2 linked regions of the Homo sapiens genome follow. The gene in region 1 interacts genetically with each later gene. Each region holds a gene or a part of one and is shown on either strand. Other genes may lie near its edges. The genes, in order: PALM and KEAP1.

Evidence for each region.
Region 2: changes in PALM (region 1) and KEAP1 together harm fitness more than expected from each alone (negative genetic interaction), as found in Homo sapiens cells (one large-scale study listed by BioGRID).

Annotation. Positions count from the first base shown.
Region 1 is NC_000019.10:715,127-718,934, reverse strand, and holds part of PALM (paralemmin-1), read right to left. Parts: intron 1-3,808. UniProt on the Homo sapiens protein: Involved in plasma membrane dynamics and cell process formation. Isoform 1 and isoform 2 are necessary for axonal and dendritic filopodia induction, for dendritic spine maturation and synapse formation in a palmitoylation-dependent manner.
Region 2 is NC_000019.10:10,496,574-10,500,381, forward strand, and holds part of KEAP1 (kelch-like ECH-associated protein 1), read right to left. Parts: intron 3,508-3,808; 5' UTR 3,461-3,507; coding exon 2,822-3,460; intron 1-2,821. UniProt on the Homo sapiens protein: Substrate-specific adapter of a BCR (BTB-CUL3-RBX1) E3 ubiquitin ligase complex that regulates the response to oxidative stress by targeting NFE2L2/NRF2 for ubiquitination.

The sequences.
Region 1 (3,808 bases):
GGTCCTCAGAGCCTGTGTCTCCCCTGAGCGCTGGCACCCCCGGCCCTGCTTCCTCCACCGCCCTGCCCTGCTCCAAGCCCCGGAGTCCAAGCCCCAATGTCAGCCCCTCACCCTTCATCAGCTCCCAGCTTCCCCTTTCCCTTCTCCACCGCCAAGATCAGCTCAAGCACAGCCACCTCCTCCAGGCAGCCTTCCAGGAAGGAACCTCCTCCCAGCCCTCCCAGGATGCAGCACGGAGGCCCCCAGGGCCATCCCAGTCTCTGGGGCACCGAGAACCCTAAACGGGTTACGGCAGAGAGGCATCACCCCGGGGGAGAGGAGAAGACGGAGGTCAAAGCAGGCCACAGATGCAGAGAAGCAAACCTGTTGCCTATTAACCTGGGGTGGGAAGGGACCCTGCCCGGGCCCTCAGGGGAAGACGGGGCAGTGAGGCGTGAACGGGGCCTTCCCTGGCTTTCAGCAGGGTCTCAGGGCAAACCCTGCTGCAGAGGCCCCATGGTCCCTCCCCACGCGACTGCACTCCAGCCACACTCCTGAGACGTCCCACAGAGCTCCCACTGCAGGGCCATTGTGCTGGCTGCATTGCTGCCTGGTGCACGGTCACCCAGACCTCCCCGGGCCTCAGGCCCAAGGCCTTTCTGCAGACGTCACCTCCTCATTTAGGCCTCTTCTGTCCTAATTTTCAGCCCCAGGCACCCCTGCAGCTGTCACCACCCGGATCACTTTACTTATCTTTTTCTTTTCTTTTTTTTTGAGATGGAGTCTCCCTCTGTTGCCCAGGCTGGAGTGCGGTGGCGCGATCTCGGCTCGCTGCAACCTCCGCCTCCTGGGTTCAAGTGATTCTCCTGCCTCAGCCTCCTGAGTAGCTGGGATTACAGGCACATGCCACCACGCCCGGCTAATTTTCGTATTTTTAGTAGAGACGGGGTTTCACCATGTTGGCCAGGCTGGTCTCGAACTCCTGACCTCAGGTGGTTCGCCCGCCTCAGCCTCCCAAAGTGCTGGGATTACAGGCGTGATCTTGTCTTCCCACTAGGACAGCAACTGTGTCATTTTTGTCCCTGCCATGTCCCTGGCACCAGGCATACAGCAGGTGCTCAATAAATGCTTGCTGCCCCAGGGAGTCGATTAGGGTCTTTCCATCTTCAGAGGAAGCCCCCACCCAGAGGTCCCCCCAATCCCGGCCCCCTCTTCTCACACTCCCGCCACTCCCAGGGCCACCTGTCATCTGATCACTGCCTCTTCTTTTTAAAGAAACTCACTGTCACGACTTACACTTATGTAAAGTAGGACCCGGACTCCTCAGTGTGAACAGAGCACAAGCTCCAACCATCTCGGGGGGTAACTACAGATTCACAGATAAACCAACCCGGGTGTCCATCCACAGATGTGTGGGTAAACGCAATGTGGCCGTCCACGCACTGGGACATGACTCAGCCGTGAACAGGAGCGAGGCTCTGACCCAGGCCACGGCGCGGATGCACCTTGAGGACATCACGCTCAGTGAGAGACGCCAGACACAGAAGGCCACGCAGCGTGTGATCCCATGTCTACGAAATGTCCAGGACCTGCCGATCCAGAGACAGGAAGGGGACTGGCTCCCCGAGGGCTGGGGGGAGGGGGACGGGAGGGGATGCCTAATGGGGACAGGGCTTGTTTTGGGGGTGATGAAAATGTTCTACAATTGTGGTGAAAGATACACAACTCTGCTGGGCGCGGTGGCTCACACCTGTAATCCCAGCACTTTGGGAGGCCAAGGCAGGTGGATCACAAGGTCAAGAGATTGAGACCATCCTGGTCAATATGGTGAAACCCCGTCTCTACTAAAAACACAAAAATTAGCCGGGCGTGGTGGCACGTGCCTGTAATCTCCGCTGCTCAGGAGGCTGAGGCAGGAGAACCACTTGAACCCGGGAGGCGGAGGTTGCAGTGAGCCGGGATTACGTCACTGCACTCCAGCCTATGTGACAGAGAGACTCTGTCTCAAAAAAAAAAAAAGTACACCCTGTCAGTGTACTAAAAACGCCTGAGCTGTACACTTTAAGCAGCCAGACTGTGTAGCGTGTGAAATGTATTTTAATGAAGCTGTTAAGAATGATATACATACAGACGTGTGTATACATACCTGTGTACGTGTGTGTATACGTGCATGTGTAATGGGAATGCCAGCCTTCTCAACAAGAGCCAGGCCAGGGGCTGGGGTCCTTCCCAACCCCCATGGAGTGCTGAAACCCCTGCTGGCCCTGCCCTGAGACTTTCCATGGCTGGAAGCGTTTGAATACAAACTGATGAGGACATCAGCTTCTCGCTCCCTGACAGGGGTTACTGAAGAACCCTGGGCCTCTGTCCCTCCCCGGCCTTCAGGGTCCCGCATCTCTGCCTCCATTGCCCACAGCCTCTGCCCACCCAGGAGGGGCTCCCAGGCCTGGCCCTGTCCCACCACCAGTCTGTTGACCATGCAGCGCCTCCCACTCAGCTGGCCTCACTCTGGTCCTAATCTAAACTTTCTTTTTTTTTTTTTTTGAGAGAAAGAGTCTCGCTCTGTCACCCAGGCTGGAGGGCAGTGGCGCAATCTCGGCTCACTGCAACCTCCTCCTGGGTTCAAGCGATTCTCCTGCCTCAGCCTCCCGAGTAGCTGGGATTACAGGCACCTGCCACCATGCCTGGCTAATTTTTGTATTTTTGGTAGAGACGGGGGTTTCACCATGTTGACCAGGCTGGTCTCGAACTCCTGAACTCAGGTGATCTGCCCGCCTCGGCCTCCCAAAGTGCTGGGATTACAGGCGTGAGCCACCATGCCCAGCCCTAATCTAAGTCTTCCCCATCCCAAGGCCTAGCTCCCCTTCCCTCTTCCCACCCAGTCCAGGCTCTGTCCTGGTGACTGGCTCTGACTGTCCCTGAATTTCTGCTTGAAACCCTGGGGCGGGAGACAGCCACTCTGGCCTGATTTTACACTCCTCAGACACCAAGACGTCCACGCAGCCATCCTCCTAGAGGACGCCCTCCACCCCCTCATGTATCCAGGGACCAGGCTACTTCTCCCCAGCCAGGGAGCCCCGTCCCTGTGGGCATCACTGACCACACGCAGTTCTGGAATCCTGTGTTTGCCCTCCTAGACGTGGGGTCCTGCCCCCTCTGGCTCTGCCATTTCTCTGCATGCTGCCCCTGCAGCCACAATCAAGGCTTGGCCATGACTTGCTCCTCCCTGGGCTCACTCCTCAGCTGCCAGCGCCTTTTTTGATGACCAGGTCAGCCACTGCTCCTCCCCTGCTCACACACTATCCATGACTCCCCATCCTGGCACTCAAGGCCTAGCAGGAACAAACACCAAAGAGCATTCTCTTCTTCCAATGCTTTCCCACCTCTAGCCCTTTGCACATGCCAGTCCTTCCACAAGGTGCATCCTTCTGCCTGCCTGGATGAACCCTGAAACATCCTTCTCAGAAAAGGTTCATGATGGACTGGATGAGGAAGCCTTTCTCACACCTCAGAGAAGATGCTGCATAGCTTTCCAGACCCTGCTGATCCCGCACAGCACGAGGATGGTGAGGAGGGAGCATTTATTTGTTCAATAAACAAATGACAGGTTTCCTAGATCAAGAAAGGATGAGAGGAAACAGGGGCCCACACTCAGAAAAAGGTGATATAATGCTTTTTTTTTTTGAGACGGAGTCTCGCTCTGTCTGTCACCCAGGCTGGAGTGCAGTGGTGCAATCTCGGCTCACTGAAAGCTCCGCCTCCCAGGTTCAAGCGATTCTCCTGCCTCAGCCTCCCGAGTAGCTGGGATTATAGGCACCCGCCACCACGC
Region 2 (3,808 bases), 9.8 Mb from region 1:
GGCGGATCACGTGAGGTAAGGAGTTCCAGACCAGCCTGGCCAACATGGTGAAACCCTGTCTCTACTAAAAATACAAAAATTAGCCAGCGTGGTGGTGCACCCCTGTAATCCCAGCTACTTCGGAGGCTGAGGCATGAGAATCGCTTGAACCCAGGACATGGAGGCTTGCAGTGAGCCGAAATCTTGCCACTGCACTTCAGCCTGGGCGATAGAGCCAGACTCAGTCTCAAAAACAAAAAAGGACTGGGCGGTGGGGGGCGGGCGTGGGCGCAGTGTCTCATGCCTGTAATCCCAGCACAGTTAGGGAGGCCAAGGCAGGCAGATCACCTGAGCTCAGGGGTTCGAGACCAGCCTGGCCAACATGGTGAAACCCCATCTGTACTAAAAATATTTTTTAAAAATTAGCTGGGCATAGTGGTAGGCACCTGTAATCCCAGCTACTTGGGAGGCTGAGGCAGGAGAATTGCTTGAACCCAGGAGATGGAGGTTGCAGTGAGCCGATACAGTGCCACTGCATGCCAGCCTGGGTGACAGAGTGAGACTCCGTCTCAAAAAAAAAAAAAAAAGTTGTCAGGCACTCGTCTATGTAATCAGTTTTAATCTAGTACCCCATGTTCATACAAACACAAGAAAGAAACACTGTATATGTTTCTCCTACTGTATAGACCACTTTCCTAGAAGCTGCAGGCCCTAGGACTAACGCCAGAGAACCCTGGGGCGTCTGATCAACCCCACATGTAACATAGAGGGTAGGAAAGAATCTATCCCTGAAGGAGAGAAATAGAGATCAGTGTAACATCCATCCCAGCTGGTACCAGCCAGTGGGGGACTTAGAAAATTTCCAGGAAGGAACACCAAGACATGGGACTCCCGAAGGCTTAGGGCCTGGGGCACTGCCCTGCTTGCCTAGGCTGAAGGGTAGTACTGCCTCATAGGACAGTTGGGAACAGTCAATGATGCAAAGGACATAAATCACTTAGAACAGGGGCTGGCCCACAGCAAGTGCTCAATAAACACTTCTTGGCCTGGTGTTGGTATGGTGCTTCATACCTGTAATCCCAACACTACGGGAGGCCAAAGCCAGAGGATTGTTCAAAGCCAGGAGGTTCGAGACCAGTCTCAGCAACATAGCAAGACCCTGTCTCTACAAAAAAATTTAAAAACTAAAAAATTAGCCATGCGTGGTGCTGCATACCTATAGTCCCAGCTACTCAGGAGGCTGAGATAGGAGGCCTCCTTGAGCCCAAGAGTTGGAGGCTACAGTGAGCTATGATGGCACCACTGTATTCCAGCCTGGGGACAGAGCAAGACCTCATCTCTTCAAAAACTTTTTCTTTTTTTTTTGAGACAGAGTTTCGCTCTTATTGCCCAGGCTGGAGTGCAATGGCGCAATCTCAGCTCACTGCAACCTCCGCCTCCCGGGTTCAAGCGATTCTCCTGCCTCAGCCTCCTGAGTAGCTGGGATTACAAGCATGAGCCACCATGCCAGGCTAATTTTGCATTTTTAATAGAGACGTGGTTTCTCCATGTTGGTCAGGCTGGTCTTGAACTCCCGACCGCAGGTGATCTGCCCACCTTGGCCTTCCAAAGTGCTGGGATTATAGGCATGAGCCACCGCGCCCAGGCTTTTTTTTTTTTTTTTTTGAGACAGAGTCTTGCTCTGTCGCCCAGGCTGGAGTGCAATGGTGCGATCTCGGCTCACTGCAACCTCCACCTCCCCGGTTCAAGCGATTCTCCTGTCTCAGCCTCTCGAGTAGCAGGGACTATAGTCACATGCCACTACACCCGGCTAGTTTTCTTTTTTTGTATTTTTATTAGAGATGGGGTTTCACCATATTGGTCAGGCTGGTCTCAAACTCCTGACCTCAGGTGAGCCACCCGCCTCAGCCTCCCAAAGTGCTGGGATTACAGGCGTGAGCCACTGGGCCCTGCCCTCTCTTGTCAATTTCTATAGATAATTTCCTTCACTGAGAAATGTGAAAACGAAACCAAAAACAGTATAAGGACATTGTGTGGACCAAAGAAAACATGACTAAGGTTCAGACTTACAGCTTGCAGCCTGTCACGGGTGTCCAATAAACATTTGCTGACTGCCCGAAAGGCTGGGCTACCCTAGGATTTGGCTGCTGTTCACTGCACTCTGCCCCACTTTGACCCCAGAGAAACCAGGGAGCCCAGAGACATATGAAGACCTCACCTTCCCCAGCTGTTCACCAGTCTCCCCACATGTGTAGACAAGGAACTCAGAACCCCAGTTGTTTTTTAATTTTTTTTTTTTTTGAAACTGAGTCTTGCTCTGTTGCGCAAGCTGGAGTGCAGTGGCTCGATCTCCACTCACTGCAACCTCCACCTCTTGGTTCAAGCGATTCTCCTGCCTCAGCCTCCTGAGCAGCTGGGACTACAGGCGCCCGCCACCAGGCCTGGCTAATTTTTATATTTTTAGTAGAGATGGGTTTTAGCTATGTGGGCCAGGCTGGTCTTGAACTCCTTACCTCAGGTGATCCACCTGCCTCGGCCTCCCAAAGTGTTGGGATTACAGGCATGAGCCACCACGCCCGGCCCCAGTTGTTTTTTGTTTGTGTGTTTGTTTGTTTAGAGACAGGGTGTCATTATGTTGCCTGGGCTGGTCTTGAACTCTTGGCCTGAAGCAATCCCCCCGCCTCAGCCCCTCAAACTGTGGAGACTACACCACCATACCCAGCCCAGAACCTCCTTTTTCTCCAGTTTCCTGCCTTGACATCTCAAGGGGAGACAGTGATGAGCACTCGTCCATCCCTGGTCCTTCTCCTGACACTGCCCCCAGCCCCACTTCCCCGCTCACCTCCCCAAAATGCATGTAGATGTACTCCCGGGCACGCTGGTGCAACTCCACACAGCCAATCTGCTCAGCGAAGTTGGCGATGCCGATGGCATTGCTGGGGTCCAGCTGCTGCACCAGGAAGTCACTGCAGGCACGGACAACGCTGTCGATCTGGTACATGACAGCACCGTTCATGACGTGGAGGACACACTTCTCGCCCATGGAGATGGAGGCCGTGTAGGCGAATTCAATGAGGCGCTCCATGACCTTGGGGTGGATACCCTCAATGGACACCACCTCCATGCCCTGCTCCCGCAGCCCGTTGGTGAACATGGCCTTGAAGACAGGGCTGGATGAGGCCAGCACCACCTTGTGGGCCATGAACTGGGCGGCCGGTGCATCCTGGTACTTGACCTGCAGTGTGACGTCACACAGCTGCTGGCTGAGCCGCAGCTCGTTCATGATGCCAAAGGCCTGCTTGGTATGATCCTCCAGGGTGTAGCTGAAGGTGCGGTTGCCATGCTGGGAGGGCGTCACCTCCGCCTTGCACTCAGTGGAGGCGTACATCACCGCGTCCCCTGCCCCCTCAGGGCACTGTGACTGCAGGGGCAGGAATCGGCAGCAGGCCCCAGCCCCGCTAGGCCTGGGATCTGGCTGCATGGGGTTCCAGAAGATAAGCAACACCACCACCTCTGGCACTCAGGGACCTGGAGGGGAGAGAGCACAGGGCAGAGGGCAGGGGTTGGGACTGGGCCAGCACCTGCCGGGCCTCGTTTTGCAAGATAAAGCAATTCCTAGGTCAGTTTTCCTGCAAAGTAGGTGAAGCAGAATCCATTTGCAAACTTGCAAACTTCCCCGACCTGATCAACCTGATTGGCCCAAGAGCCCATCTTAAAACATACATGAAGTCATGTCTCTCCCCTGCTCTGGATCCTCCAATGCCTCCCACAGTACCTAGTAAAACTGAACTCCTCAACAGCCTGCAAAGCCCTACGCAATTAGCCCCTG